Linked DNA regions of Homo sapiens: all the other regions are reported to be linked to region 2. The links are microRNA targets in miRTarBase. Many come from high-throughput screens and were not tested one by one. Region 2 holds a microRNA gene; each other region holds the end of a gene's coding sequence.
Evidence for each region. Region 2 holds the annotated microRNA hsa-miR-6776-5p (UCUGGGUGCAGUGGGGGUU, at 3,948-3,966, shown strand). A microRNA usually pairs through its seed, bases 2 to 8, with sites in the 3' UTR of a target mRNA and lowers its output. Matches are read on the target gene's strand: a 7mer-m8 pairs with bases 2 to 8, a 7mer-A1 pairs with bases 2 to 7 and ends in A, and an 8mer does both.

Region 1: the mRNA of CNTN4 is a reported target of hsa-miR-6776-5p. Seed matches in the 3' UTR shown: 7mer-m8 at 5,697-5,703 and 7mer-m8 at 4,126-4,132.
Region 3: the mRNA of AMBRA1 is a reported target of hsa-miR-6776-5p. Seed matches in the 3' UTR shown: 7mer-A1 at 5,806-5,812.
Region 4: miRTarBase lists DDA1 as a target of hsa-miR-6776-5p. Seed matches in the 3' UTR shown: 7mer-m8 at 2,585-2,591 and 8mer at 4,470-4,477.

Annotation. Positions count from the first base shown.
Region 1 is chr3:3,053,951-3,061,987 of GRCh38, reverse strand. It overlaps CNTN4 (contactin 4), which reads right to left. Exons shown (of 25, transcript NM_175607.3): 24 at 8,013-8,037; 25 at 4,029-5,868. The coding sequence ends at 5,768. It overlaps CNTN4-AS1 (CNTN4 antisense RNA 1), which reads left to right and starts at 843. Exons shown (of 4, transcript NR_046554.1): 1 at 843-921.
Region 2 is chr17:2,689,572-2,696,861 of GRCh38, reverse strand. It overlaps MIR6776 (microRNA 6776), which reads left to right and starts at 3,943; the gene lies at 3,943-4,001. It overlaps CLUH (CLUH binding protein of NUMT mRNA), which reads left to right. Exons shown (of 26, transcript NM_001366661.1): 11 at 1-143; 12 at 324-428; 13 at 603-703; 14 at 1,336-1,488; 15 at 1,582-1,644; 16 at 1,761-2,005; 17 at 2,298-2,382; 18 at 2,586-2,739; 19 at 2,823-2,962; 20 at 4,002-4,082; 21 at 4,166-4,291; 22 at 4,380-4,501; 23 at 4,765-4,858; 24 at 4,967-5,101; 2 more. The coding sequence ends at 6,268. RefSeq lists enhancers at 4,636-5,143, 5,144-5,652.
Region 3 is chr11:46,391,200-46,399,236 of GRCh38, forward strand. AMBRA1 (autophagy and beclin 1 regulator 1) reads right to left here. Exons shown (of 18, transcript NM_001387011.1): 18 at 5,215-6,744. The coding sequence ends at 6,251. CHRM4 (cholinergic receptor muscarinic 4) reads right to left here and starts at 577. Exons shown (of 2, transcript NM_000741.5): 1 at 332-577. RefSeq lists enhancers at 1-73, 1,591-2,365 and silencers at 618-707, 888-937.
Region 4 is chr19:17,318,704-17,326,507 of GRCh38, forward strand. It overlaps DDA1 (DET1 and DDB1 associated 1), which reads left to right. Exons shown (of 5, transcript NM_024050.6): 5 at 843-4,595. The coding sequence ends at 953. ANO8 (anoctamin 8) reads right to left here. Exons shown (of 18, transcript NM_020959.3): 17 at 6,014-6,683; 18 at 4,520-5,181. The coding sequence ends at 4,814. Among named protein-coding and RNA genes, the nearest start is that of ANO8, 12 kb to the right of the region's middle. RefSeq lists enhancers at 2,653-3,269, 4,811-4,860, 5,648-6,148, 7,593-7,804.

The DNA of each region.
Region 1 (8,037 bases), not on the chromosome of region 2:
GCACGTGCCACCATGCCCAGCTAATTTTTGTATTTTTAGTAGGAATGGGGTTTCACCATGTTGGCCAGGCTGGTCTCGAACTCTTGACCTTGTGATCCCCCCACCTCAGTCTCCCAAAGTGCTGGGATTACAGGTGTGAGCCACCATGCCCAGCCCTGACTTTCTAATTGTCTATGTTACTTTGGGCTTCTTATATAACCTCTTTGCTTCCATTTCATAAATAAAAAAGGAATAAAAACCTATGTCCTCCCCTTATTAGTGTGAAAAGCACTTTGAAAACTAGAAAAACAAATTAAAGATATTACTATTTGTTAAAGTCCTAGGACATATATATTTCCTGGTATAGTTCGTGTTATTCCTAACAATAAGGATATGTGGCAAAAACCCAGTTTACAGAGAATGGGGATATCACATGTAATTGCATCTATATTTAAGTAGCTCAGCCTTCCAATTTCCAGACTTTCAGATCGATCATATGGTTGACCTTTTTTAAAAAAAGCTTTCTCTCTATGTGATCTATATCACTAGAGCTCTGCTAATCTACCATGGCCCATAACTGCTTGTGATAAAGGATAGAGGCCAATTTTGTTTAAACTGTGATCTCTGTTGAGTATTGTAGTTTGCAGGTGAGTTGCAGAGCTGGAACATTTAATCCGCATGGCCCATTTAGCACAAGGGGAAACGGGGCCTCTTTGCAGAATGGGCAGCCTGACTTGCATTTACTAATCACACTCTGGCAGGGGGCCTGAGGAAATCACAGGAAACGGGGCCAGATATTCTCCTCCCTCTAGGTCTGAGATGGAGGTGACACAGGCCTTGTGCCTGGGAGCACAATGAGGAACCACACCCAGATGCCAACGCTGAGGTGCCGTGTGTCTACTATAAGGCGGAAGACACCAACAAAAATGATTTAAATATAAGGTACGAAGGGATGACTGACATGAGTGGGTACAGACCCCATCCCCTGGAGGTCAGAGAAATGCAAGGTCAATTTCAGATGGGGAAGCTGAGGGAGGCTTTGTGCAAAACCTGGCATCTGAATGGGAACCCTACTGCCTAAGTTTGAATTAGTTGATTGTATGATTAAAATTATCGAACATTAAAATTTATATTAAGAAGTGATCATGTTTAAATAAAAGGTGATAATGGATGTGTCAGCTGAGTTCCACTCATTTTGGTGATAAGAAGCATCCACATCCTACATCTGTGGGTCTAGTAAAGTCCCTGGAGAAAAAGAACAATAACAGACGGTAAAATCATCACTGTTTGGAGAGCTTTACAAACTTTATCCTCCCTAATAAGTAGCCAATCATTACAATGCACCCCAGGCAGTCAAACTCCAGGATCCACGTCCTTAGTCTTTGTATTAGGCTGCCTTTGTAAGGCCTCAGTGTCTGGCATTTTGTAATGGAAAAATCTGGGGTATGTCCACAGATTGAATATAAGTCCTTGATTTTAAAGGCTTGCCTTTCAAAGCACTATGGTTGGCCACATAACGTTTTTAGCCAGAACATTTTGTAAATTGTAACAACAGGAAAATAACAGTCACTTCTTGATTATAAGTGTTAACGGAGGAGAACAGTAGCATCGATAATCCAATGTAGTGAACAAAAATCACCTGTTGGTTGATTACATTAGATTAAAAACTGCATGACATTTTTGTTGCTAATTATGTGCTATTTGTATACTTTTTATAACTCAACATTCTTTGCGCATATTTGTAGTGAGGCAAGGTGGTGGAAGAGACTGGGTAAAGGTTAATCAGGATTTAACATTGCCTCCTGGATATAAACAACCACAATTTTGATGGTGGGAATAACACAATCATTCTTTCTTAATATCAAAGTCTATGCACCTTCTACCTCACAGGCTGGAAGAATTCAGAGCTTACCTGAGAAATGAAGCTTATCATCCATGTCTTCTGTGCCCATGGAAAGGTGCTGCTTTGTATGTAGCATGTGTGGGCTCCATAGAAAGTAGGTACACTGAGAGAATCCAAATATCTGGCACAATAGAATTTCCTTTCATACAGTTAAATCACAAGTGGACTACACACACAAAAAGGAGGGCAAGAGTAAGCACTTTGAAAGGTTAAACAAGCAAAGCAAATTTTCCTAGTGGTCCTCCTTCAGAAAAAAATCTCAAGCAGCAATATAGTCATTCCACTCGAGTGTATTACTTGGGCTAAGGGCCTAAGAAAGTCCCCTTGGCTGGCTAAGCCTAGAAAATCTGTTACTTATACCAACCCAGCATTTCTTCTCTTACCTTTGGAAAACAGCATCTTAGTTTTCCTTTAACTATCCCTCCCCTGTGAGTACAAGGTACTCTGGCTGTGGAACTCAAATGGAACTGATCACTTTCCCAGGAATCTGAATATTGAGCATAATGGCGTCAAAATTGGAAACAAAGCTGATTCATCCCCACAATAGCACCCCAAAAAGACTTTCCAAAGTTCCCATTGTCTGGACCCACAGAGTGGCCTGGTTCTTATTCTCCTCAAGAGTTGGTCCTTCAGTGTTTCCTTGGCTCATATGATGTAACCTGTGTCATTCTAATTCCTTACTTTTTGTTTGCTCAAGTTACCCAGGGTCGTTTCTTTGCTTACAGCCAGTGGACCCTACCTGAGGCAACCATGAAAGCCAACAAATGAGACAAGTTTGGGTGGAGGTGCTCATGGGGCACTTTCTAAAACATCTTCAATTCAGTTAGACTCAACTAATCCAGGACCTCATTTACCCGATGATGAAGCCAATTGGTCAAAGACTTCTTCCAGGTACAAAGTTAGAAGCCAGGCCTTTTAACGCTTTTCAGCACATAACGAAAGTAATGACACAGTCTTCCCTGGTTGGTTTGCTGTGGCACACAGGCAGGCAACTGATGCAAAATGCTACTTCAAAGACCCCTTCATTCAATTAATCAGTGAGTATTTATTGCAAGGCACTGTGCTAGGCACTATGGAGAGTACATGGAAGATAAGACCAAAGTCCCTGCCCTCAAGGAGCTTACAATCTAGTTGGGAAGACAAGCCATACATACAAGAAAAAGTAAGTAACAATACAGGAGTTAAATTAAAATGCAAGATAACAGTACAAGAGATTTCCAAAAGTAGTATCTGATTAATTACTAAATGAGCAGCATTGATAGGGGATGCAACTACTTCCAAGCGAGAATGTCATAAAGGACTGAAGCATGGGAAGTCTTTGCAGACAAACTGGGGCTGGAGCTACCCTAGGACAGCAGGGATCTGAATGGGAGAGAAGGGTGGAGAAGGCATTTCAGGAAGGGGCAGCCATAAGACCAAAGGCACAGAGGTGAGACCAAAAGCAAGCAGTGTTCAGGGGTCAGGGAGGGCTTACTGTGGCTGGATACACAGTTAAATCGTTTTGGATTAAAAAGGGCCTTAAGGGCCGGGTGCGGTGGCTCAAGCCTGTAATCCCAGCACTGTGGGAGGCCGAGGCGGGCAGATCACCTGAGGTCAGGTGTTTGAGACCAGCCTGACTAACATGGTGAAATCTCGTCTCTACTAAAAATCCAAAAATTAGTCCGGTGTAGTGGTGGGCGCCTCGGGAGGCTGAGGCAGGAGAATTGCTTGAACCTGGGAGGCGGAGGTTGCAGTGAGCCGAGATCGCAACATTGCACTCCAGCCTGGGTGACAAGAGTGAGACTCCGTCTCAAAAAAAAAAGAGCCTTAAATGCTCAAGCTTAGAACTTACCCTTTTAGCAATGGGGGGTGAGGGAAACAACAGATATACTTACAGTAAATATACAAAAGACTTAGCTAATCAAGAGAAAATATTCAAGTCTCATCTTCAGGACATTTACTTGTGGATTAGGACCCTCTCTACTTCCAAAGAGGATTTGAAATGGTGCTTCAGGGTTGTCAATTCCAAAGGAAAAGCTCTGGGTCATCTAGATTTGGGTAGAGACTTTTGAGTCCCTCTATGATCCCAAATTATAACTAGCACAAAGGTAAGCTAACAAATTCCCTGACAGGCAGGCAGGAAAAATGCTCCCGAAAGACAAGTATCTTTACAAATGACAGAATATTTATTAACAATACCTTTAAAAAAGATTACATATGCTAGATCACTGGTAAATATCATTTACACTGGGGTTGGGAACTCCCTGGGTGTCATTTTTTTTCGTTCATTTTATTATTTTGCTGATTTTTTTTTTGCATGTGATTTTAAATTTTATTTCAACATAGAAGTAACCATATCAAACTAAGAAAGGAACACAGCTTGAAATACTGACAATATTTTTTTCCGGTTACCACCCTAGTTTTTACACAAATGGAATCCCGATTATGACTTTATTGGATAAATATAACTAGAAGGTTGAAAAGTTATATTATTTGTAAGCAAAAATGACAAACTATAGCAAATTTGAGTTCTCTGAGAAAGAAGAAAAGGTGGCAGCATGTTTACATGAGAAAATGTTTATAGAAAATTCCATTGCCTTTTATGTCACTGTCCAGTAGGGTTTACTCACAAAACCTTTCTCATTGTAACAAATAGTTCTTTTCATAAGAATACAGTTTTGTTGATATTGTCATTTTCCAATGTGTGATTTTAAGACCTAGAAGGTAAAGCATATAAAGCAACTAGGCTACCTATTGCAAAACAGAATCATCAAGAAACCATACAATTGTACTAAAGAGCTTTTATAGAGTCATATTAAAAATTCTTGCAGCAACTATTTGTTGAAATAGGAGCAATCTTCCAAAGTCCATATGTAATTTTGATTCAAAAGAAGGGCTCTATTATTACAGAGATACACATATTATATATAAGAAATTTTGTAAAGAAATTACGAATCCATTGACAGAGAATTACTTTTTTTAAATTTACATTCAAAATAGATACAGTTAAAGATAATAAAATGATCTTTTATCCTTTGAAAGACTTGGTTGACTATAGTAACTTTGGGTCTATGTTACTACAGGATATATGTTACTTCAAATTTAATGTCTAAGATAATGCTACCACAAAGACAATGCTAACTCAGTTGAGTGAAAAGAAAATCTTCCTGTACAATGCTAAATTCAGGGATGGGAATATTGCACAAGGTGCCTCTTGGGCAGTACATTGAGCTTTTGAGATTGCAGCCATTCCTGAAACCATCTCAAGTTGGGTTGAACAACAAAATTCACAACGGCATGAAAACATACTGTACATGTCAAAATCACAACGGCATGGGAAACATACTGTACATGTCAAGTGCATTAACCACTAGAAGAGTAGTTTGCATACAACAGCCTTGAGTTACGGACCAAGTCTTCCGCTGTTCTGCCATGAGATCCTTGTAAAACTGTACGAGTAATTTGCAATTTATTTACCAAGATGAGTTTCAAACTCTGTCTTTAAAGGAAATATTTTCAAATTATAATTGCATGATTGTGTTGCCCATAGCATTTTACAGCCGAGGAAAAAATTAATATCTACATTATATGTTAACTTTAAAAAATTCTATAAAACACTAAATATATAATAAAAAATATGCATATAAGGACATATGTAAACTGCTTTGGTAACATCATATTACAGATGTCTTCAGTGCATTGCAGAGTTTCCAAAGAAACTTCAGACAAAGCTAGATTTGCTTTGAGGAAGTACTGTATAATGCCATTCCTAAAGAAGCAAAAAACATTTTTATTCCAGTAATAAGATGTACTTGAACAACAATATTACTTAGTACTGGGTGTCTTCAAAACAACTAGCTAAATGTTGCTTATATTATAAACAGCAAGTCCTTCAGATAACTTTTGTCATAAACTGGACCTAGCTGTGAGGGAAATCATTATTGTACTGATGGCTGACAGCGTACATGCATTCGAAGTGGAAGCCCCAGATCCTCTCGCGTAGGCATCTGAAAAGAGAGAACAAATTCACTCAAAACAGCCCCATCCCGGCTTCAAAGGGAAGAGGGGCCACGGGGCTTTTTGAAACAGCAGAACTGCATGGATTCTACTGGAAATGATGATCAAGGTCTTAATGGCTTTTAAATATCAGTTCTATGACTACCAAGCTACAAACCTGGGAGTAGGGTATAGGACAGCCCTGTACCTCTGTCAAAGCATTTGTAAAGTAAGGAGGTTCCTATCTAATGTGAGAAGAAACTTCAATATTACTAGTAACAATACTGATAAACAGCATGCTATGTCGATGATTCAACAAAATGAAAATTGCTGCTCCCTTTTGAACTCTATCTTTCTGCTGGGCACAGATGAATATGACACTTAAATCTTGCAAAAACTGGATGAAGGCCAGGTATTATTATTACCTCGCTTAACAGATGGCGGTAATTTGCGCCCAGAGAAATAAAGTAACTTATCTAAGATCACCCAGCTAGTAAATGGCTAAACTGGGGTTCAAACCCATGTCTGTCTAAATCTACCCCTTTTCTGCAAACAAAATAGCCTCAATCCTTTTTTAAATTTTCTTATGGGTCTTACACTTTTCATAGTAAGAAGCTATCAACTGTCATTCGGGGGTTCTTCAATCTTGTAAGGTCTCTTTGACCAACATGATGAAAAATCTCTTGAAACAGATCATGTTTGGTTCACAGTCACTTCCTTGTTATCTAATAATTACACCAATATAATTGCTTAATATATGTTTTTGTAATGAATAAAACCAGGAATCATCAGTCTATCTAAAAATGTCAATCCCTGCAATGATAAGAAAGTATGAAGTATAAAGTCAGATTTTTAATGAAGCGAGATAAGCCCCAATCTTGTATTTTTGTGGCCTGGAGATTTTACTTCCACATCTCACCAAAAATCTAGCTCCCTTTCGATAGAAGTTAGAGGCTTTGTTTGATAAAGTATAATCCAATTGTCCCCCTTTTAAGACAAAAATGCCTTTTGTGTTTGTATGCAAAAAAGATGCAGTAAATATAAACTCCATCCAGAAACACTGGCATATCACCCCTTAGCAGAGGGATGTCACATGGCTAAAAGTCAGGATGGTGGTGAGGATTTTGTCCATAATTTAAAATATCATCTTTTTACCAATGTCTTGAAAATTTATACCTCCAGCCTTCACTGCTCCCCTAATCTCCAGACTGAAATCTGAAAGCCTGTGAAAGTCTACACTTAGATATCTAACCACAGTCTTTTTTTTATTGCTGTAAAATACACATAACAAAATTAGCATTTTAACTCATTTAAAATGTACAAATCAGTGGTACTAAGTATACTCCAGTGTTGTGCAACCAGCACCACTCTCAAGCTCCATAACTTTTGTGTCACCCCAAATGAAGACCCAGTGCCTAAACCCCCATTCCCCACTGACCAGCCACTGCCAATCACTAGCCTCACTTCTGTCTCCACGGATTTGGCTATTTTGTTTTTTTTCTTTAAATAAATGAGATCACACACAACAACAAAAAAATCATGCTCTTAAGATACTTACAAACATGGTATTTGTAAAAACAGAATTGAATGTATTTGCTCAAAAAGAATATGCTATTCTCCCATGCTATTCAACAACATTTGAAAGTGAAGATAATCTTGACTATAGAGAGACATACACATTGATGCACATGTTGCATATACCCATTGAAAATAAGTAGTAAATTCCAAATATTTCCAAGATACTGAACTGCATACACTGTTTCACTGGAGAAAAACTGCTACGGCATACTTAACAATGCTTGTCCTTGTTCCTTCTGACTGAGTCAATGCTTTTCACTTTCTAAACTGTAATTCTGGGGCTACAATAGATGCAATGCAAACTACACAGGTTGACACGGAAAAACCTTAGTGACTAATTCGGGTCTGCTTTAATCTGATTTTTGATTAGCAACTGAGTAGATCAGTCAACACGGGCAAACTGATTTTTGCATGAAACTGCCTATGGCCAGCAAACATCTGGAGAAGGGGGGTAGTGTTCTCCATTTCTATTTTAAGTCTGCTTTTGCAGGCTGAATGTCTTTCAAGCCCTGACTCATCTGGAAGGCTGATAAGATAAGACAGGCAGGAGAAAAGGGAGAAAAAAAGGCATTCTCACTTGATATCTTTGGAATTCGAATTTG
Region 2 (7,290 bases):
AAATGGTGGTCCTTCCTCCTTGGAGTCCAAGTCTGAGGATCCTCCAGGACAGGAGGCGGGAAGTGAGGAGGAGGGTAGCAGCGCCAGCGGCCTGGCCAAGGTGAAGGAGCTGGCAGAGACCATCGCCGCAGACGACGGCACAGGTGGGGCTGCTGCAGATGGCCGGGAGAGAGCCCGGGCTGGCCCTGCCAGGGTGGCTTATGACCCCCACCTGGGAGAGGCTGGCAGACATCTCTGCAAGGAGCTAGGGGGCGAGGCTTGGCGCAGCCCAGCTCCACCGGTGGCAGAGGGGACCCGTGTCTCATGGAGCCATGTCTCCACAGCAGACCCTCGGAGCCGGGAGGTGATCCGCAACGCGTGCAAGGCGGTCGGCTCCATCAGCAGCACCGCCTTCGACATTCGCTTCAATCCTGACATCTTCTCACCAGGCAGGTGGTGGGGGCCGGCCAGCGCAGGAGCCCTCCAGGGCCAGAGCTTCGCTGGGGGGCCTGGGCCCTTGGGGCTGGTGGGTTTGTCCCCCATCTGAGCGCTTCCCCCGCCAGCGCCAGGCGGCATTTGTCTTGCCACTGCCTGGCTCAGCCTCTCTGCTCTCCCTCCTCCAGGGGTTCGTTTCCCTGAGTCCTGCCAGGATGAAGTTCGGGACCAGAAGCAGCTGCTGAAGGACGCGGCTGCCTTCCTGCTCTCCTGCCAGATCCCTGGCTTGGTGAGGGAGGGGCTGCGGGGCTGGGTGGGGCTTGTGTGGAGGGTGCTGGTCCCTCATCTGTCTCCGACTTGGAGGCCCATGAACACAGGCTCGCAGGAGTGACTTTTTCAGCTTTCCCTGAGTGGGCATCCCCGTTTGACAGATGGGGAGCCTGACCCCCAGAGGTCAAGGGCACAGGCCCTGCTGAGCCCACCGTGTGGGCTGGCAGCTGGTAATCCAGTCTTCTGAGCCCTGGATGGTGGCATGGCTGGGGGACGGGGCCAGAGCTCAGTGGGGGCTGCCCATCCTCCTCCTCCTCCCGCAGGCTCTGTGTCTGGTTCCAGGATGCTGGGTGCTCCCCCAACACCGTGGCCTCCAAGCCTCAGGACACGGGGCTGGGGGTCAAGTAGTGCCCCCAAGCGGGCACCTCTGCTTCTCCCACATGGTTAGAGGGGGCCTGTACCACCACCGGGCTCTTGGTTCTTGGCCTGCGCTCCTGCCAGAGGCTGGGCACATTCTGACATCCTGACTGGGAGCTGGAGCCTTCGGGGTCCTTCTCCAGGGCCTCCCAGGATAGCTGTGCTCCCCCAGAAGGACTCAGTTGGGTGGAGGCAGAGGAGCTGGGTGGGGGCCTGAGCTGCTGCAGCCCGCAGGTGAAGGACTGCATGGAGCACGCGGTCCTGCCCGTGGACGGGGCAACGCTGGCAGAGGTGATGCGCCAGCGGGGCATCAACATGCGCTACCTGGGCAAGGTGCTGGAGCTGGTGCTGCGGAGCCCGGCCCGCCACCAGCTGGACCACGTCTTTGTGAGTGCTGCCCGGGGTGGGGCGGAACGGGAGCTGTGGGACTGGGATGGAGGCCGGGGGCCTGACCAAGACCTCCCTTCTGAATCCTTCCAGAAAATCGGCATTGGAGAACTCATCACCCGCTCGGCCAAGCACATCTTCAAGACGTACTTACAGGTGCCACCCGTCCGCTCTGCGGCTGGCCATGGCCTCCCAGGGTGGTGTGGGGCGTCGGGAAAGAGCCTGAGGTGGGGCTGAGGGCCCTCATGACTCGGATCCAACCTGCCTCGCAGGGAGTCGAGCTCTCCGGCCTCTCAGCCGCCATCAGCCACTTCCTGAACTGCTTCCTGAGCTCCTACCCAAACCCCGTGGCCCACCTGCCCGCCGACGAGCTGGTCTCCAAGAAGCGGAATAAGAGGAGGAAAAACCGGCCCCCGGGGGCTGCAGATAACACAGCCTGGGCTGTCATGACCCCCCAGGAGCTCTGGAAGAACATCTGCCAGGAGGCCAAGAACTACTTTGACTTCGACCTCGAGTGGTGCGTGCGGGGCAGGGGCGGTGGGGTGGGTGGGATTGGGCAGATGAGGCGGCCACCACCTGCTCCCAGATGGCGTCTAAGGCCTGTGGTCATAGGCCAGGGAGTCAGAGAGAAGAGGGAGCAGCTGTGGAGATCACTGGGTGCTGGAGGGTGAGGGCAGCCGGGAGGCTCCCGGGGGCCGGGTGGGGCAGTGTTGGGGGCCCGGGCTGGACAGCGTTGGGGAGCTGGGTGGGGCGGTGTTGGGGGGGCCCGGCGGTGCTTGGGCTGCTCAGGCCCCCTGCTCCCTCCTCAGTGAGACCGTGGACCAGGCTGTGGAGACCTACGGCCTGCAGAAGATAACGCTCCTGCGGGAGATCTCGCTGAAAACAGGGATCCAGGTGGGCATGGCTCACAGCATCCCCGCTGTGTCCCCGCTGTGTCCCCGCTGCGTCCCTGCTGCAGGCTCCCACTCCTGGCCAGGGCCACAGGGGAAGTGGCTTTTTCACGGTAGCCGTCTGTGCGCAAGCGTTGGTGGGTTGGGAGGTGCCAACCCGCTGAACCTGGGCCTGAGGCTTCCTGTGGTGGGGGGGCTGCCCCCCAGGTCCTGCTGAAGGAGTACAGCTTCGACAGTCGCCACAAGCCCGCGTTCACCGAGGAGGACGTGCTCAACATCTTCCCCGTGGTCAAGCACGTCAACCCCAAGGCCTCGGATGCCTTCCATTTCTTCCAGAGCGGGCAGGCCAAAGTGCAGCAGGGTGTGTGGCCAGGTGGGGCTGGGTGGAGGTGGGGGTTCCCCATGGCCCGTCCTGACCTTGCCACCCCTGGGGGTGCCCTGCAGGCTTCCTGAAGGAGGGCTGTGAGCTCATCAATGAGGCCCTGAACCTGTTTAACAACGTCTACGGAGCCATGCACGTGGAGACCTGCGCCTGCCTGCGCCTCCTCGCCCGCCTCCACTACATCATGGGCGACTACGCAGAGGTACCCTCTGGGCTGTGGCAGCAAAGGCCTGGCCTCGTGTTGGGGGATGGGGAGTGAGGGGGCCCCTGACGGAGGAGTGGGTGGAGTCCAGGGAGACCCCAGGAAGTCGCTGGTTCTGCCCAGGCCACCCCTGGCTCCACCCCTCTGTAACTGTGTCCCGAGCGGGAGAGCTCAGGAGCACCCTGTGCTGCGGTGAGGTCAGTTCTGGGAGGCGATGGCAGGGGACCCCCCCACAGGGCGTCAGCAAGGACGCCTCCTGAGACTCCGTGAGTGGGCAGGAAGCATGCCACCGAGCTCCCACGTCCTCTGTGCCCAGTGCAGGCTGTGGGGTTCTGGGTGCCCTGCCTGGCCGGGGCTGGTGGAGGCTGTGGTGGGGTTCTGGGTGCCCTGCCTGGCCAGGGCTGTTTCAGGGTTAGCATGTCTTAGGATCCCTACTCCCTGCAAAGGGACTGTTTTTTCTTCTGTTTATAAATGGGTGGGTTGTTTGTTTGTTTGTTTGTTTCTGAGACAGGGTCTTGCTTTGTCACCCAGGCTGGAGTGTAGTGGCGTGATATCGACTCCCTGCAGCCTCAACCTCCTGGGCTCAAGCGATTCTCCCACCTCAGCCTCCCGAGTAGCTGGGATTACAGGCGTGAGCCAGCACACCCAGCTAATTTTTGTATTTTTAGTAGAGATGGGGTTTCATCATGTTGGCCAGGATGGTCTCAAACTCCTGACCTCAAGGGACCCACCCCTGCTCAGGCTTTTTTTTTTTTTTTGTAACATTTTTAGTAGTTTTAGGTTTGTATTTGGGTGTTTGTGGAGATTTTGTTGGGTGTAAGACATGGGTGTGTGGAGCTCTCTGTGGAGCGTGACCTGCCCTTCAAGGTGTGGCAGCAGCTGCTGCTGATCCCCCTCCCCCCTGCTGCACTGTGCTGGGCGCAGCCGGAGGGGACAGGAGCCTGCAGAGCGGCACCGTGGGCTGCTGGGCCGGGGCCAGGCGGGCTCTGGGTGCAGTGGGGGTTCCCACGCCGCGGCAACCACCACTGTCTCTCCCCAGGCCCTGAGTAACCAGCAGAAGGCGGTGCTGATGAGCGAGCGGGTGATGGGCACCGAGCACCCCAACACCATCCAGGAATACGTGAGTCGCGAGTGCCGCCCGCGCCGGGGGATGCGAGGGGCTGGGTCCGCGGCCACCCTGACCTGTCTCCGCCCCGCCCGCAGATGCACCTGGCCCTGTACTGCTTCGCCAGCAGCCAGCTGTCCACCGCCCTGAGCCTGCTGTACCGCGCCCGCTACCTCATGCTGCTGGTGTTCGGGGAAGACCACCCCGAGATGGCGCTGCTGGACGTGAGTGCTGGGGCGGGGGGGCGGCAGGGACCCAGCTCCATCCCAGGGGACCGGGAGCTGACCAGGGCCCCCCACCGCCTGCCCCCAGAACAACATCGGGCTGGTGCTGCACGGGGTGATGGAGTACGACCTGTCGCTGCGCTTCCTGGAGAACGCGCTGGCCGTCAGCACCAAGTACCACGGGCCCAAGGCCCTCAAGGTGGCCCTCAGGTGAGGGGCCGCCCGTCCAAACGCCAAGGCCGGCGGAGGCCTGCGGGGCAGCCGGCGGGGGCGGGGAAGAGACCCAGTGCTCCTGTCTTCCTCCACCCGAGAAAATTTCTCTCGACCTCCCCCTCTTCCCTGAGCCCTGGACTTGCTGTTCCCCTCGGTGGCTTCCAGGGAGGGATCTACGGGAGACCCCGGGCCCCCGAGTCAGGCCCCCACACCCAGCCCACTTATGCCCTTCCCTCGCCCCGCGCCGCGCCTCCCGGCAGCCACCACCTTGTCGCCCGAGTCTACGAGAGCAAAGCTGAGTTCCGGTCGGCCCTGCAGCACGAGAAGGAGGGTTACACCATCTACAAGACGCAGGTGCGCGGCGGGGGCGTGGCGGGGGCGGGGGCGGGGCGGGGGCGTGGCGGGGCGGGGGCGGGGCCGCGGGGGCACGGGGGGGCCTGATCCCTTCCCGCCTCCCCGCAGCTGGGCGAGGACCATGAGAAGACCAAGGAAAGCTCCGAGTACCTCAAGTGCCTGACCCAGCAGGCCGTGGCCCTGCAGCGCACCATGAACGAGATCTACCGCAACGGCTCCAGCGCCAACATCCCGCCCCTCAAGGTGAGTCCGGGGCGGAGCGGCCCCTCCGGCCCGGCGAGCGCGGGAGCCCCGCTCACCGCTGGTTTCCCCGCCCCGCAGTTCACGGCCCCCAGCATGGCCAGCGTCTTGGAGCAGCTGAACGTCATTAACGGCATCCTCTTCATTCCTCTCAGGTGAGGCCTCCGCCCCACTCGAGTGTCTCCCGGTTGGGGGTTTTTTGTGAGTCGGAGTCTCGCCCTGTCACCCGGGCTGGAGTGCGGCGGCGCCATCCCGGCTCACTGCAGCCTCCGCCTCCCGGGTTCAGCGATTCTCCTGCCTCAGCCTCCCCAGTAGCTGGGATTACAGGTGTCCGCCACCTCGCCCGGCTCATTTTTGTGTTTGTAGTAGAGATGGGGTTTCACCACGTTGACCAGGCTGGTCTCGAACTCTTAACCTTGCGATCCGCCCGCCTCGGCCTCTCAGAGTGCTGGGATTCCAGGCGTGAGCCATCGCGCCCGGCCCGCCCCGCTTATCTTCCCCAGCATCCTCGCATTCCGCGAGTGAAGACCTTGGTGTTTCTGCTTCACACAAAGTATCTTGGCGTTTTCCCACCAGTCCCTAAGAAGCGGCTTCATTCCCTCCCCACGCTTCCCATCCTGCGGCGGGGGGGGGCTGAGGAGCAGGCCCCGGGCTCCCCGGGGTGGCCACAAGCAGTGTGGCCTCCTGTGGGGAGTGGATTTGGTCAGCAAGGCGTGGCAGCAGCCCCCCAACTCCGCTTTCCTCCCCCTGCGCTGGAGGGAGGCCACCGAGGGCAGCGAGGGGAGCCCCGAGGCCGGGTCAGGTGCGGGGTCCTTACCTTCTCCGTGTTCAGGGACCTTCCGCCTTCAGGAGGGAAGCGCTTGTTCACACACATTCCCCACTGAATAGAGCGCAGAGCCTGAGCTTATCCCACAGGAAAGCCGGGAGGCGGGTGGAGCCCCCAGGACTCCTCTGAGAGCCACCTCCATCCCCACCCTTATCCTCAGCCAAAAAGACCTGGAGAATCTGAAAGCCGAGGTGGCGCGGCGGCACCAGCTCCAGGAGGCCAGCAGAAACAGGGATAGAGCCGAGGAGCCCATGGCTACCGAGCCCGCGCCAGCGGGGGCCCCAGGAGACCTGGGCTCCCAGCCCCCGGCTGCCAAGGACCCTTCTCCGAGCGTGCAGGGATAGAGAGGGAGCCAGACGGACAGCCAGCCAGCGGCCCCGTCACCAGGGAGCCCGACTGCGGGAGAAGGGGGCGAGCCTGCGGGCGGAAGAGGAAGCAAGGCCCTCTTCCTCCACGTCTCACCCCACCCCACCCCCGTGTCCTCCTGGGAGCCTGGCCTGCCTGCCCCGCAGAAGGTGTTTTTGCGCTGGTTCAATGAATAGATGATGCAGAGGCCCCATTGGAGACACGTGAATGGCGTGTGCGGCCATCAGTTCCCGGCTGGGGGGCAGGTGTTGCTTCGGCCCCCGCCGTCCGGCCGGCGTGTGCGAGTGCGCCCCTGGCTGTGAGTGTTGACCGTTCCTCTCCCCTGTACATAGCCCGAGCCAGTCCTGAGTGGGTGACTCCTGAGTGGGTGACGCGCAGACGGGATTTCTCAGGTCATTTGTATGGTCGACATGATGGCTGCTGCTTTGGCTGCCACCACCCCCGGGCCCAGCCTGTCTGAAAGTTCAGGGTTTAGGCCGAAAAACCCGGTGGGGAGGGGTGGGGAGCCGGAGCTCTGTGGCGGGGCTGGAGGGCTGGGGTGCACTTTAGTTTGGGGCGGGACGGGAGCCGCCGTTGTGACTGGCGTGGTCTGGCTGCTGCTCCCGAACGGAGGGGTCGGGGTTGGCTTGCTGGGCCCTCAGAGCCCAGTGGGTGGCTCTGACTCGGCTCCCTACTCCCTGCACCCAGCTGGGCGCAGCCTTGGGGCCTGCGGTCTGAATGTATCCCTCCCCTCAGTTTTAACCTGAGCTGCCGAACGCACAGTGGGCCGGGGGCGAGGCTGGGGGAAGCGGGGCCCAATTACGGATCCCGGGAGTTACAGGTGCCGACGTGATGTCGCTTCTCTGGTGCCCAGCTCCCTTCCTGGTCTGAGACTAGCTCTGGGGGTGGCGGGGGCCCCCACACGCTGCTCCCGCTCCACCCTGCCCGTGCTGCTGCTCTGTGCCTGCTGTCAGAGCCCTGGTGGGGGAGGATGTGGCCACCCTGAGACCCGGAGGAGACG
Region 3 (8,037 bases), not on the chromosome of region 2:
AGGGAGAGGGAGGGCGGGGAGACGGCGGGAAAAGGGCTCTTTGGGGCTTCAGCGCCCGGCGCCCTGCTGAGCCGCCAGTGGGAGGGCTGGAGTACAGGGTCCCACCCCCGACGGCTGCCCCTGGCTCCGTGGGGTCTGTGGGCGGGCAATCCCCCGCCCCCGACATCCTGGATGCCCACCCCTTCCCACGGGCGCACCCGGGCGCACCTGGAGAAGCCTCCGAGAGCCCCCGGCCTTGCTTCCAGCGGGGTCCCCCAGCCCCGGCCCACTGCCGCTCCCGGCCCGCGCTCGCCCCGGAGGGGGTCTGGCGCCCTGTCCCAGTCGAACCCACCTCTGGGGAGCCTCAGAGCGTCCCGGGGACCTGCTTCCTGCTCTTCCCGGCGAGCCCCCCGCCCCCGCGCCGCCGCGGAGCCACTTACCCGCCGCCTCTGCCCAGCTCCCCTCGCGCCAGACAGACGGCGGGACGGACGCGCGGCCCCGCGGGCCGGCGGGGCGGGCGGCCGGGCCGAGGGCCGGGGGCGGGGACGGGGTGTCGAGGGGCGGCCCCTGCTCCGCCCGCAGCTCCCGGCGCTGTGGCTCCGACTCGCGCTCACGCTCGCACTTTTCCCCGAGCCGCGTGATGTCACGAGGAAGCAGCCAATCGTGGCGGGGCCGCGCCGCCCGCCCCGGGCCGGTCACCCGGCGGCGACGCGCGGGGGTCAACACCCGAGGCGTCGGAGACCCCGGCGGTCCGCGCCCCTCTCGGGGGCTGGCCGGCAGCTCCCTGCTTGGGCACAGAGGGCGCCGCCCACGGCCAGCGACGCAGGGGAGCAGGGGGCGCTGCCCTCCGGGGGGTGGGGGTGTCCGCGTTGTCATGGGGACGCGGCGCCCCCTCGCGGGCTGGGGAAGGAGCTGGCAGCTGGGTCCGGCCGCGCTCCCGCCTCCGCCCTGACCATACTCCCGGGACCCTGAGCTATTTTCGCGCCTCTCCGGGACCTCAGCGCCCTGCGTGGCCCCGCTGGCGGTTTGGCCGCGAGGCGCGGGAGTCTGACCCCAGCGGGAGGCTGCGGGTGGGTGGGGCGGGCTGCGCCGCCAGGGATCCGTCGGGGTCGAGGGCCGGGAGCTCCAGCCGCGCCGCTGCGTGCCGGCCGGGCCGCCCGCGAGGAGGGGCGCCGTCGGGGCCTGGGGAAGCGCAGGAGCGGGTGGACTGGAGAGGTTCGGCCGGGGAGAGAAGAGCCCACCGCGGACCACTCGCCCGCACCCGCTCGGCTGCCTGCTCAGCGTTCCGGGCCGGGGAAGGGGCGCGCCCCTGCTCTCCCAGCCCTGGGATGGGACGCGCCGCCAGTCCAGGCGCAGCCTGGACCGCCAGTTCACCGCCGCCTGTGAGGGACAGTCGGTTGCCCAAGGTCGCCGGGGCCGGAGCCCGGGACAAGATCCCGGAGAGCGGGCAGCCAATCTCAGAGGTCGCTGGGAACCGCACGGGCCGTAGCCTCAGGACTCCGGGCCTCGCCCAGGCTGGGCGGACCTTGGGGCGGCTTCAGCACCTCGGAGAGCTCCCCGCGCCCTGGCCCAGCAGCCTCGCCTGCCTGATTCCGCTCCAGCGCTTGTCTCCCTCCGAGAGCGCCCTTCCGGGGGACCGCCGGGGTCGGACGCTCCCCACTGCGCCCAGGACCGAGGCCTGTAACCCCAAATTCTGATCGCAAACATTTGATTAAGCTTAAGACGTCTGATTTCTTCTCTCGGGGAAACAACTCAAGACCCTCCCCCGAGGGCCGGAGGTGGTGAGGGCGATTGCGGGGGCGGCGGTGGAGGAGAGGCAGGAGCCTCTTGGCAGAGAATGGGAGGGAACTCGAGTAGAAGCCAGCGCTGCGGGGCTCTTGGTGTGGGGTTCTCCGCGCGGAACCCGGAAGTGGAGTTCGGGTCCCCAGAGCTCGCGAGCGCGACGGCTGGGGTTGGTCGGAATTGGGAACTTCAGGGCTGGGGTTGGTTGGCTAGAGTAGGAAGCCATCTTCTGTTGTTACATGAATGATCGGGTCTCCCAAGACCTCATAACTGGGGGTGAAAGAAGCACTACTCTTCTTGCCCCACTTCACAAATAAGGAAAGTTGGTTCATAAGACCCTAAGACGGCACTCCTGCACTTCTTCCACTTTGCCATATCCTTCCCAGGGCACAGAAGAGTGTGATACTCCTAAGAGGAGGTGGGGGTTGTGGAGGAGGAAGGCAGATAGATCCTTAAAACAGTCAGATGAGAAAACAAGCAAGGCCAAGGGCGGGAGGCTGCATACACAAGACACGCCTCCAGCTACTGACCCCAGCTCTTCCAGAAGCTGGCAGGCAAAGTCACTTTAATTTCTCCACAATCCCTGTTATGAAGGGCTTTTGACCTCTCTCAATCTCCCAACCCCAAGAACCCACGGTGGAACCCTGGAGAGCTGAATTGGGAACAAGGGGACTTGGTGGTTTCTCTGCTCTGCTTTTGATGCCACTAGGTCAGCAGACAAGTAACAGAATTTCTCTGAACCTATTTCCTCATCTCCAAAAGGGACTGCCCCTATCTTTGCCCTGGTGACCCCACAACCTTGTGACGTGTAAGGGGCCTGCAAAGGTTTTACTACCAGAGAGGCTCTGTCATTGGGCAAGGGCTTTCTAAGGAAAGGGGCTGGTGTGGGGACAGAGAGGTGTTGACAAGGGCCTCCAATGGGGGGTGGGGAGGTTGGGGAGGGTGGCTGGCACCATCCAGAGACAGCAGAGACAAGGCCTGGCAGGTCCAAATTTGGACCACCTTGGCCGGATGGTGGCTCACGCCCACAAACCCAGCATTTTGGGAGGCCGAGACAGGCAGATCACTTGAGGTCAGGAGTTTGAGACCAGCCTGGTTAACATGGTGACACCCCATCCCTACTAAAAATACAAACAAAATTAGCTGGGTGTGGTGGCACACACCTGTAATCCCAGTTACTCAGGAGGCTGAGGCAGGAGAATTGCTTAAACCTGGGAGGTGGAGGTTGCAGTGAGCTGAGATTGTGCCATTGCACTCCAGCCTGGGTGACAGAGACTCCATCTCAAAAACAAAACAAAACAAAACAACAAAAAACAAACAAAAAAACCCAAAAAACAAATTTGGACCACTTCATCCCTAGGGACCTCCCCATACCCTTTTCCCCAAAGCAACAGAACAAGTCAGGGTTCCATTGTTTCTCCTACACCTTGTCTTCCTTCTGTAGAAATGACTGGCTGAAGTGTGCACTCTGGAATCATACACTACTTGGTTCAAACTCTGGCTCTGCCAGTTAATTGTGTGCTCTGGGGGTAACAGCAGTAATGACCTCAGAGAGTTTTTGTGAGGATTGACAGAGAGAACGCACATTGACTCCTGGCCTGTGGTTTACATTAAACAAATTAGCAGGACCCACTATCAGACCAAGGAATTCTTCCTCCAACGGGTGGTGGGGAGAGGATGTGGGGCAGTGGGCTCCCTTCTCCTTCCATCCTTCAATGCTTAGCTCAAATCCACTTTTTTTTTTTTTTAAAGAGATAGCATCAGCCGGGCACGGTGGCTCATGCCTGTAAACCCAGCACTTTGGGAGGCCAAGGCAGGCAGATCACCTGAGGTCGGGAGATCGAAACCAGCCTGACCAACACGGAGAAACCCCATCTCTACTAAAAATACAAAATTAGCCAGGCGTGGTGGCTCATGCCTGTAATCCCAGCTACTAGGGAGGCTGAGGCAGGAGAATCGCTTGAACCTGGGAGATGGAGGTTGCGGTGAACCGAGATGGCACCATTGCACTCCAGTCTGGGCAACAAGAACGAAACTCCGTCTCAAAAAAAAAAAAAAAAAAAAAGAGAGAGAGAGATACGGTCTCACTTTGTTGCCCAGGCTGGACTTGGACTCCTGGGCTCAAGTGATCCTCCTGCCTCAGCCTCCCAAGTACTTAGGGACTACAGGTGTCTAAATCCCACCTCTGAAAGGAAGCCTGCCCTAGCCACTTGTGTGCTCTCTGGGCTTCAGTGATTCCAAAGTACAGAACTAGAAGTAACTTTGAGGTTGTGTAGTACAAGCCCTGCATCCTAACAAGGGAAAGTGAAGCCCAGAAAAGGCAAATGGCTTGCCCAAAGTCACACAGCTAAGTGATGTGTCTTTCAGTCCAGAGTCCACTAATACAGAATTTTCTAGAAAATAAGAGTCTTCCTAACTCTGGCCATGGTTTTTTATTTCTTGCTTGCCAACTTATCTTTTGGTTTTGTCTCTGTTGGAGCAGAACCTGGAATTCTGAGTGCCCCATGGCATCAGGGACAGATTTGGGCACACACACACACACTCAAAAGTACGTGCTGCTGGCAAAAAGCCCTGGAATTGCTTGGATTTTCCATTAGAGCTCTTGAAGAGTTGGGGCAAATATCCTTTTCCCACTTGAGACGGAGTCTCACTCTGTTGCCCAGGCTGGAGTGCAGTGGCGTGATCTTGACTCACCGCAACCTCTGCCTCCAGGGTTCAAGCCTCCCCAGTAGCTAGGATTACAGGTGCGAGCCACCACGCCTGGCTAATTTTTTTGTATTTTTAGCAGAGACAGGGTTTCACCATGTTGGCCAGGCTGGTCTCAAACTCCTGACCTCAAGTGATCCGCCTGTCTCGGTCTCCCAAAGTGCTGGGATTACAGGCGTGAGCCACCACGCCTGGCCAGCTGGAAGCTTTCAAGCAGCCAAAGCCCACGAATAGAGCAGGCCTTTCGGCCACTGTAGGGAAGACACAGTCAAGGGAGACCTGAGCAGCTAGCAACTGGCACCTTGCCTGCAGATAGGACCAAGCCCCTCCACCTGCCTAGCAGGCTGGACACCTGCTGTGCGTGCTTTCCCAGGACTGGAGGGGATCCAGGTTTCTGGCCAGTTACATCACTTCAGGCCTGTAGTCCTGGGTGGGAAGCTATTAGGATGAATAGCCTTCTGTCGTTCCTTCCTACATACTCACCCTGGCACTGGAAGGTGGCCCCAGTCTGTAGCAGGCCCTGGGGAAGCAGGAAGTGGTGGCGTACAGAGAAGTGGTATGAAGCAGAGGTGGCAGCCCTCACCTGACCAGCTCTGGCGAAGGGGTCAGAGGGGTCCACTGCACCCCACTAGGAGAGCACCAGAAACAGTGCCGGGAGAACCTGGGCCTGGCCCAGTTCAATGCCCCTCACTTCCCAATCCCCACCCCTCCCCCATCCTCCTTGGAAATAAGAGAGAGGAGCCTGGCGAGGGGCATGTCATCATTTTAATGATGTGATCTTTGGTGTTTCCCTCATTAGCTGTAGACTATCCCCTCTCCTCCCACCACAATGTTTCTATGATGAGTTACAAACAGAAAGGAAATCACATTTTCATACTAAAAACAAAATGATCAGAGCCTTGATTTCTCCACTAGAAACTACACGTACAGTTAAGAGTCCACATGCAACACCTTAAATCACAGACTGAGACCTCACATTCTGACCTGGAGTCTCCTCCCCTTCCCCAGCCTTGGGCTAGCTTTGGCCTAGGCTCAGGTAATACTGACACCCACAGGCGCTGCTCTGAGGGCCTTGCGGGGAGAAGACTGGTGGACAAGCCCTGGGGGCTGGCCAGCCTACACCCCCCACTCCTGAGTGAGGACCTGCCCACTGTCCCTTGACCCCATCCTGTATCAGGCAAGCAGGCGCCCCCTTACCCCACAGTAGTCCCCCATTAGTAAATGCCGAAGTCCCTGTCCTCAAGAATCTGGGAGCCTGGCCCGATCCCTGTTGGTTTCAGTGGGGTAAGACGACGAAGAGAGGCTGAAGCTCTGGAAGGCTCAGAGTTGGAGGTGGTGTCTGGGTTCCTGGTGGCTCTGCCCACCCAACAGGTGGACAGGGCAAAGCTGCCTCGCGGGCCTCTGTCCAGGATGATTGGCCCAGATCTGGAAGACTGTTCACTCTCTGGAGGCTCTCTGTCCAGGGCTGAGTCCCCTGAGCCCATGTTACTAGGAGAAAGTGGGGTGCCTGGCAGAGATACCCACTTGTTCCTCTATTCACATTAAGCCCACAGTGTGGCTCTCCCGGGCTCCAGATCCTGGAAGGTTCTAGTTCCCCGAGGCAGGCCTTGCCCATTTGACTGTCTTGTGCCCACTGACTGATCTTCCTCTCCACCCTGACCCTCTTCCTCCTCCTGTTCCCTGATGCAGCCAGCAGCTCTTCCACATGTCCAGTTCCCAGTCAGCTGTGAGGTCCGGTTTCTGCTTGGCGGTTCGAGGGGAGGCACCAGTGCAACGTTTGTCTCTACCTGTTCCGTGGTTCTCCCCTAGGGCCTGCAGCGTCCCCCCTGCTGCTGCCACCATCCAGAAGGTGGTTGTTATTGGTCAACTCGCAGTGGAGGGTTGGTCCCTCAGCGCTGGGAAGGGAAACAGGAATGGGGACAGGGGAGGAAGAGGGCAGGGTTGGCTGGGTTGGCTCCCGCCCAGGGGTACCAGGCTGGTCCCAGGAAGCTGTCCGGGGGCTTAGGCCTCGCTCTGCCAGTTGCCCGGCCTCTGGGAGCAGTCCCCGAGAGGTGGAGGGCTGGGGTGAGGAGGTGTGGGCGGCACCAGGTTCAGTGCCCGTCTGAGAGCTGCGGTGAATGCGGTGGCTGACGATGATGTTGTTGCCGAAGCCGCCCATGGAGGCCATGGTGGTGCTCTGCTCCCGCTGCACCACGGCTGTCATGCCGCCCTCCGCCATCAGCCTCTGGATCCTGCTGAGCGCATCTTCTCCACTGGCACCATACTCTGAACCCTCACCTGGCAGATACAAAGCAGAAGAGAGAGCGAATTGGCTGCTGGCCTGGGCCTCTGAGGCAGGTGGGCAGCCACCGGTAGCAGCTGGGGGATTCTTGACTAAACGCAGGATAGAGAAAGACTCGCTCCATCACTGTGAAAACCAATCCGAGTCTTGAAAGCTAGACAAAACCCCCAAAATGTTCACAATCCATACTTCTGTTTTACTGGTGGGGAAACTGAGGCCTAGGATGGCCAGTTAAGAGGCAGCACTGGCCCAGAAGGCAGCAGGTTGGCCTCAATGAGTTCTCTCAGCACCAGTGGCAGCTTAGCATGCGAGAAGGCAGGTTCAGACAGCTGGTTTTGTCTGCCTGCTCCCTGTTGTGGAAACTCAGCAGACCTAGGGCTGAGCTGGGGTATGCCACCCTTTCTCTGCAAAGAGAGTAGGTACCCTATGGGTGTGGCCCAAAGGGAAACAGTCTGCTCTGCTTCATTACAATGCTGTCTTCCTTCAGCGTAGTTTTGTGTTACCTCCTCAAAGCCCCTGAGGAAGCTGAGAGTTATTTTTATATTGATTGATTGATTGATGGAGTCTCACTCTTTCACCCAGGCTGGAGTGCAGTGGTGCGATCTCAGCTCACTGCAAGCTCTACCTCCTGGGTTCACACCATTCTCCTGCCTCGGCCTCCTGAGTAACTACAGGTGCCCGCCACCACACCCAGCTAATTTTATATTTTTAGTAGAGACAGGGTTTCACCATGTTAACCAGGATGTTCTTGATCTCCTGATCTCGTGATCTGCCCACCTCAGCCTCCCAAAGTGTTGGGATTACAGGTGTGAGCCACTGCGCCTGGCCTATTTTATTTATTTTTGAGACAGAGTCTTGCTCTGTCACCCAAGCTGGAGTGCAGTGGTGTGATCTTGGCTCACTGCAACCTCCGCCTCCCGGGTTCAAGCAATTATCCTGCCTCAGCCTCCCAAGTAGCTGGGATTACAGGCATGCACCATCATACCTGGCTCATTTTTGTATTTTTAGTAGAGATGGTGTTTCCCCATGTTGGCCAGGCTGGTTTCGAGCTCCTGACCTCAGGTGATCCACCCTCCTCGGCCTCCCAAAGTGCTAGGATTACAGGCGTGAGCCACCACGCCTGGCCATATTTATTTATTTTTTTGAAATGGAGTTTTGTTCTAGTCGCCCAGGCTGGAGTGCAATGATGCGATCTCAGCTCACTGCAACCTCCACTTCCTGGGTTCAAGCCATTCTTCCGCCTCAGCCTCCGAGTAGCTGGGATTACAGGTGCCCGCCACCACACCCAG
Region 4 (7,804 bases), not on the chromosome of region 2:
CAGGCTGGAGTGAGTGCAGTGGCGTGATCTCAGCTCACTGCAACCTCCGCCTCTTGGGTTCAAGCAATTCTTCTGCCTCAGCCTCCAGAGTAGCTGGGATTACAGGCATGAGCCACCGCGCCTGGCAAGTTTGTTTTTTTTTTTTTTACCTAACATTGAACAGTGGGTGGCTGCCTACCCTGCGCAAAGTTGGAAGGTCGGGGGACTGTGTGGCAAAGTGACTGCTTCTGAAAATCCAAGCTGCTGGGCCCACCCCCACCCCTTCTCCTGCCCCCCAGGACTTGGTTTCCACAGCGGGGAAGGAGGCGTGTGCTTCTGTCTTGCGTTGATGTGCGGCATCCCCAGTGGCTTCCAAAGGCCCTTTATTCCCAGGCTGGGTGGGTTGCTCCTCTGAGTGCTTGAGAAACCAGCCCTGTGTGGGTCATTGCATGTGGTGGGGGTGACTCCGGGTGCCAGGAAACACCTGTCTATCACCAGGCATGGGTCCAGAAAGTGCTCTGGGCAGGGCTTAGTGGGGCAGGTCCTGGTGGTAGGAGGGGCTGCCTAGCCAGGGACCCTGGGGCCCCCCACTGTACTCCAGGCCTACCTCTGTGATGCTGCTGCAGGGGCCTGGGCTGGCATTATGACTCTGGGAGCTTCACCCACGTGAAGACTCACAGCCTCCAGCTGGGCAACATAGTGAAACCCCCATGTCTACCAAAAGTAAAAATATTAAGCGTGGTGGTATGTGCCTGTAGTCCTAGCTACTCCAGAGGCTGAGCTGGGAGGATTGCTTGAGCCCAGAAGGTTGAGGCTGTCCGAAAAAAAAGACTCACAGCCCCTCTCTTTTCCCTGTCCCCCAGAACGCTGCCAAGAAGAGAGACCAGGAGCAAGTGGAGCTGGAAGGCGAGAGCTCCGCACCTCCCCGCAAGGTGGCGCGGACCGACAGCCCAGACATGCACGAGGACACTTAAGACTCTCAACTCCACAGGCGCCTCCTGCCAGGTCTGCTCCTCGGTCGCCCACCCGCCTGCCCGCCATGTGTAAGCACCCCGCCCGCCCGCCTCCCTGCCGGCCCATCCACACCCTGCGTCCACACCACTTCCAACCTCATAGGAGCCGATGTATTTATTTTCCTTGAGTTTTTATTTATGCTGTAACCTGTATCAAGCGTTGGTTAAAGGGGACATCAGACCCAGTAGTGTGATGTTGGTAGATGCTTTTTAAAAAAAACAACATTGTCCCCCCGACCCCCGCCTTCCATCGGGCCAGTTCCCCGATTCCTGCCCCCAGTTCTCCAGAGAACCAGAGTGTGTCTGTGAGAGTCTCTAGCGGGGGCTTTACTGTGGCCGGGCGACAGGGGCGGGCCCGGGGTGGCCTGACCTACCAGGACAGCCGAGTGGCCTTCTCCCCCCCAACACCGGTCCAGGCCATTGAGACTCGGTCTTGTCCCACGCTTCGCCCGGAACTTTCCCATGCCCAGGCCTCACTCAGCGTGCACGCACGTTGGGGAGAAGTCGGCCCTTGGGATCTTTCTCTTGAGTCATTTTATTTTTATCATGGACTAGTGCGTGCTCCGTGTCCACCCCAATAAAAGGGTCTTTCCTACTTGACCTCGCGTCTTTGCTCCACACACCTTGGCTGCAGAGGACGGAGCCCCTGGGAGTCATCCCTGTTGTCACCAAGAGGAGTGAGAAGGGCCCCCCACGCCAGGGGCCCCAGGACCGGCTGGATTCTCTCGTGGGCTTGCTGAGGCCACCATGTTCAAGGCCAAGACCTGCCTGGACCATCCCCTCTGCCTCTCCTGTCAAGGTGACCCCAAGGACAGGTCATTCCTGAGAGACGGTCCATGGTGCCAAGGATGGAGCGGGGTCAGCCCCCTGCCTGGGATACCGCCAAGCAGGGCAGCGCACCTGTCAGACACCGCAGAGATGGCCGGCCTCATCCGGGGGCCTGGGGTCTCTGGCCTCTGCTGCTCCCCTGAGGCATGGTGACAGTACAGACGGCATCTGGCCGGTCTTGCTGTCCTAGGTGGTGGCCTCACCCTTGCTGGGTCATAGAGGAGCTGTACAGAAGGTTGGCACCTGGCAGTTGGCATGTGCCATGGCCGCTCATGGGGACCCCTCTTCCGCCAGCTGGGCTGGGTTTGGGGCTGAGCTTGGGTATGTAGGGGTGTTCGGGCTCTGGGCAGAAGGTTTGTGGCCCTGACCACTGAGCCTGGGGCTGGGGGAACACCGCTTCTCCCCTTATTGCCCCCACTGGTGGTGGTGGGGATCTCAGTTTTCTTTTGTTTTGTTTTGTTTGTTTGTTTGAGTTGGGGTCTTGTACTCTTTCCCAGGCTGGAGTGCAGTGGCGTAATCACAGCTCACTGCAGCCTCGACCTCAAGCCTTCCTCCCACCTCAGCCTTCCAAGCCGCTGGGACCACAGGCACCCACCACCATGCCTGGCTAATTTTTTTTTTTTTTTGAGATGGAGTCTCGCTGTGTCTCCCAGGCTGGAGTGCAGTGGCAAGATCTCAGCTCACTACAACCTCTGCCTCCCAGGTTCAAGTGATTCTCCTACCTCAGCCTCCTGAGTAGCTGGGATTACACGCGTGCGCCCCTACACCCAGCTAATTTTTCTATTTTTAGTGGAGACGGCGTTTTGTCATGTTGGCCAGGCTGGTCTCGAACTCCTGACCTCAGGTGCTTCGCCTGCCTCGGCCTCCCAAAGTGCTGTGACCGCACCTGGCTGCCTGGCTAATATTTTAAAAATTTTTTGTAGAGACAGGGTTTCACCATGTTGCCCAGGCTGGTCTCAAACTCCTGGGCTCAAGTCATCCACCTTCCTCAGCCTCCCAAAGTGCTGGGGTTACAGACGTGAACCACCGTGCCTGGCAGAGGTCTCTGTTTTGAGAGCTGAGTCTGAGGGCGTTGGGATGGTGTAGGGTTGGGCCACAGAGCTAGCAGACACTCCGGGCTATGGAGGGTCCGCCTGCCCCAGATTCCACTGTGGAGGGCCCTGCCTGTGTCAGACCCTCGGGCCTAGGCGGCCCATCTCTCCCAAGGACGGAGAGTGCCAGGGTGGGCTCCCGTCCTACACAAGGAGTGGCTGACCAGGCCCAGGCACAGCACAGCCACCCTGCTGTACCTCCCAGCTCCCGGCAGTGTCTACACCACAGTGATGGTGCTACAGGGGCCATGTGGTCACAGGACAGGTGGTCAGGAAATGCACACTTGACTGCGGTCGATGGTGCCGGGTCCGGCTGAATGCCCTGGAGGCTCCCAGGCCAGCTGGGGAGTCCCAGTCCCCAGGGTTGGTGTGACCTGGGCAGGCCTGCGGTGTCCATCTGTGAATGACTGAGATGGTGGGACTTCAGCTTCCAAGGCCAGGGGCCAGAGTGGGAGCAGGGGGCACTCCCGCCTTTCCCCTCGGCCTGTCTAGACCTCTCTGGCTCCCAGTTTCTGCTTTGAGTGGCTGGGGGCTGTCTCCTGCCTGTGCTGTCTGCCCGTCGCTCTGCAGGGCTGCTGGGCGGGCACCTCCTTCCCCTCCCCTACCTCAGCTCCCTCCTTTGGGGTCTGAGGGCTGTGCCCCAGCTTGCCTCCCTGTGGCCTCCCCCTAGAACCCCTGGGTCTGTCGGGACATGCCCCACCTGGCACACACACCCTGTGTAGCTCCCACTGCCTGTGGGAGGACGCTGGGCCCCTGAGCCGGCCTCTGTCTACCCCTCCTGCCTTTGGGGTCCCCTTTACCCCACTGTTCCCCCAAACTGCCTTCCACCTTCTCCGCCTTTGCACAGGCTGTTCTCCTGCCTCCAGTGAACTCTGACTTCTCCACAGCCTCCCAAAGGGCCCCTTGCTCACACTGGCCCAGCCCTGCAGCATGGCCATGTTGGTCTCTGAGCCTTAAGCCTTTGGATGTGGACACATTTGTCCTCTTCCTGAAAAATGTGAGGGTCTGAGAGGCCACGTTCCTGTTCCTGAGTCATACGACAGAGTCCCAGTGACTTGGGTCTGATGTCTGTCCCACAGTGGGACATCCCTGCTGCATCCCAATGCCACCCCGTGTCCTGGGGACACCCAAATGTGCCATTCTCTCAGTATCACAAGTCGGGGACTGCAGGAGGCTCAGGTGCCAGGTGCCTTCTGATGTTCATGCCACAAGCTCTTCCCACTGTCTCTGGCTCCCCAGACGATGTTCCAGGAGGCGGGTGTGCCAGAAGGGGCCACGTCTTGCAAACCACCGCGCTGTCCTCTTTGAGAAGGAGTCTTACTCAGGACTGGGGCCTGTGCACACATTGTCGCCTCTTTTCAGCACTTAGAGATTCCTTCCTTTGTCTAGTGGCTGAAGCCAGGGCTGAAGTTGGCCTCCAAATCTGGGCCGTCTCAGAGGCGGCGCAGCCTGGAGTTTTCCATCTGTGGCCAAGACCCAGTTTTTGGGAGGAGGCCCTCATGGGTCAAGCCAGCCTGTACCAGGATGGGGGGAGGGGGTTCCCAACCTAGGCCCCAGCCACCCAGACTCCCCCACCCCCACTCCCTTTTCCACTGCTCTGACCTCGGGCACTGTTGAAATATAGTTTTTATTGCATTTCTGCCGTTTTACAAAAATATGACAAAATAAATTAAAAACAAATAAATAATCGCCTGTTCTGTGTGTGTGTGTGTGTGTGTGTGTGTGTGTGTTTTCTGTTGGATTTGTGGGTTTCCTTTCGTTTGGAAAGGAAAACGGCAGATGGGGGGCACCGACCAATACTGGGGGCCCTCGGGGGCTGAAGCGCATTTTGCATTTTGGAGACCGGCCGCCCCTGTGAATGACTGATATTGCATATGAGAAGAGAAGGCAGGGCGGGTAGAGCTAATGCCAGCCGCTGGGCCAGCACACGGCCTGGGGGCTGGGGCTGGGGCTAGGGGAGGGCGCTGGGGTCTCGAGGGGATCCGAGGTGGGCGGTAGCGGTGGGGGCGGGAGGCTGTAAAAGCTGGCGTCTCCCGGCAGGGGCTGGGGGGCGGGTGGGGGCCCGGCCATGGCACAGGGTGGGCACTCGGCAGCGGCCAGGGCCTGGCGGGGGGCGGCACCCTCGCCCCCGCAGCCCCAGGGCCCGTCCCACTGCCAGCAGCCTGCGGGCGGTGTCGGGGGCCGGGGCAGCGGCATTGGCGGCGGCGGCGCGGGGCTCCGGCTGCGGCGGGTGCGGAGGGCAGGGGCGCCCACGGGGGCCAGCGCTGTCCCTGCGGAGGCGAGAGGGGCCGTTCCGGGGGGATGCCGCCCCCGCCGGACCCCGCCGGGCTGGCAACCCTGCCCGCGCTCCCTCCCGGGCATCCAGGCACATAAAGGCCTTATTGCTTCTGATCAGAGACTGAGGTGGGGCGGCCCCCTGGGCGGCTTCCGGTGCATACCCTGCCTCTGGGCACGGCCCTGCCGGTCACAGGGGGAGGACAGTTTGAGGAAGTCCCTCTGGCTTCTGACCTATGGCCCTTGTGCTGCAGCTGCCACCTGTTGGGCTCCCTGGGAATGGGGTTGCTGGAGCCCAGGCTGGGATTGGGGCAGGGGAGGTGGTGGGGGTGGGAGGGTAGGGGTGAGGCCTGCACCTCTGCTCAGCACATGTGGGAGCTCCCTGGGTGGGCAGCCCCAGCCCCACCTCGAGGAAGGCCTTCCTGAACAGCTGGGCTGCAGGGTGTGGATTTGCATAGAGGCCTGGGGGGTCAAGTCCCCCCCAAGAGTGAGCTGGAGCAGGAGAAGGGTGGGCTGGTTGGGAAACAGGCCTCCCTCATCTCTCCTGGCACCGGAGCATGGTGGGGGTCCCTGGGTGCAGTCCTGGGACAAGGGGCTTTGGCATCCCTCCCTGGGGAGGGTCAGGCACGGGGCTCCAGGCTAACAAAGGCCCTGGAGATACTAAGCAGGCTTTAACTGAGAGGCTCCACGTACCACTGACCCAGGTCCCCACCAGGACCTAAGACCGGGCTTCCCCTGTCCCCTTCAGCCCCTCTCCCCAGGCCTGGCCACCCTACCCTATCCCCAAAGCCGGCCCGGCGTCCCCACCCCCGAGTTAAAGCTTGTGACCTGAGCCTTCCTCTTCGGGCCGGGGGGCTTCCAGCTCCTCAGCCAGGGCCTCGTCCACCGGCCCACTCCTCTGAACCCGGCTGCTGCCACTGCTGGGGGTCCCATCTGGCCGGGCCTGCCCGCCCGCCCCGTTGGACCCAGGCTCAGCCCGGGTGCCACCAAAGGGGAAGAGCTTGCCAGCATGGAAGGCTTTGGGCGGTGAGTGGCTGCGCTCAGAGTCCCGCCGGGTCTCGGGTGACTTGAGGAACTTGAAGCTGAGGAAGGCAGGCAGGCGGGTGTCGCTGCCTGTGGGTGACTGGGCAGGGGGAGGCCGGGTGGTGGCTCCGGCCCCTGCAGCAGCCAGTGAGGATGTGGCCCCTGACGAGAGGAATTTGCCCTGCAGTGGGATGATCTGCTTCAACTTCATGACGTTGTTGGGTGCCAGCAGGGACCCTGGGCGCTTGGGCCGTTCAGGCCCGTGGCCACCCGCAGTGCTGCCCTTGGCCTTGGCAGAGGCCTTCTCGGAGGAGGTGGCAGGGTCCAGCCCAGAGCCCTCGGCCCTCGCCTCCTCTCGGCCACCAGAATCATGCTCCCGCCGGGCATGGTGCTCTGCATGGCGCTGTCGCTCCTCCTCCTCCCGCCGCCTGCGCTGCTGCTGCTGGTAGCGATGCTGGGCCTGGCGCTCGTGTCTCTGCAGGTAGAGCCAAGCCGTTACAGGACTAAGAAGAAAGGGTGTTAGCGGGTGCCAGCTGAGGCTGGTGCATGCCAGGGCTCTCTGCAAAAGTGGGGGAGACTTAAATGCTTATTAGGCTCCAACTGTATCCCTGCACCCACAATGGGGGCTCCCTGCAGAAGTGGGAGAGAGCCAATCACTTATTGGGTGCAAACGGCATTCCCAGATACATGATCAGCCTCTCTGTGGAAATGAGGGAGGCTTAAATGCTTATTGGGGCTGGGCGCAGTGGCTTGCGCCTGTAATCCCAGCACTTTGGGAGGCTGAGATGGGAGGATCACTTGAGGCCAGGAGTTCGAGACCAGCCTGGACAAAATGGCAAAACCCTGTCTCTACCAAAAATATAAAAATTAGCTGAGCATGGTGGCACACGCCTGTAATTCCAGCTACTCGGAAGGCTGAGGCAGGAGAATCGCTTGAACCCGGGAGACGGAGGTTGCAGTGAGCTGAGATTGTGCCATTGCACTCCAGCCTGGGGACAAAGCGAGACTGTCTCAAAAAAGAGAAAAAGAAAAAAAGCGTATTGGGCGCCAGCTTCATCTCTGGGCCCACACTGAGGTTCTCTGGGGAACTGGAGAGAGATTCCGAGGCTTATTGGGTGCAACTGAATGAATCCCTGGACCCACGCCGGTACTTTCTGGGAATTGAAAAGAAAACAAACATTCACTGGCCATCAACTCTGTCCCCGGCTGTGTGCCAGACAGCGTCTTAGGAATTGGTAAAGTGGAAACCAATCCTGAGCCTCAACCGATCCCCTGCTTCCCAGAGAACAGGCAAGAGACAGAACCGTGGCTGCAGGCTGGGTACGGTGGCTCACGCCTATAATCCCAGCACTTTGGGAGGTGGGCAGATTGCTTGAGGTTAGGAGTTGGAGACCAGCCTGGCCAACATGGTGAAACCCCATCTCTATTAAAAATAGAAAAATTAGCCAGGCGTGGTGGGACATGCCTGTAATCCCAGCTATTTGGGAGGCATGAGAATTGCTTAAACCTGGGAGGTGGAGATTGCGGTGAGCCGAGATTGTGCCACTGCACTCCATGCACTCCAGCCTGGATGACAGAGTGAGAGAGATTCTGTCT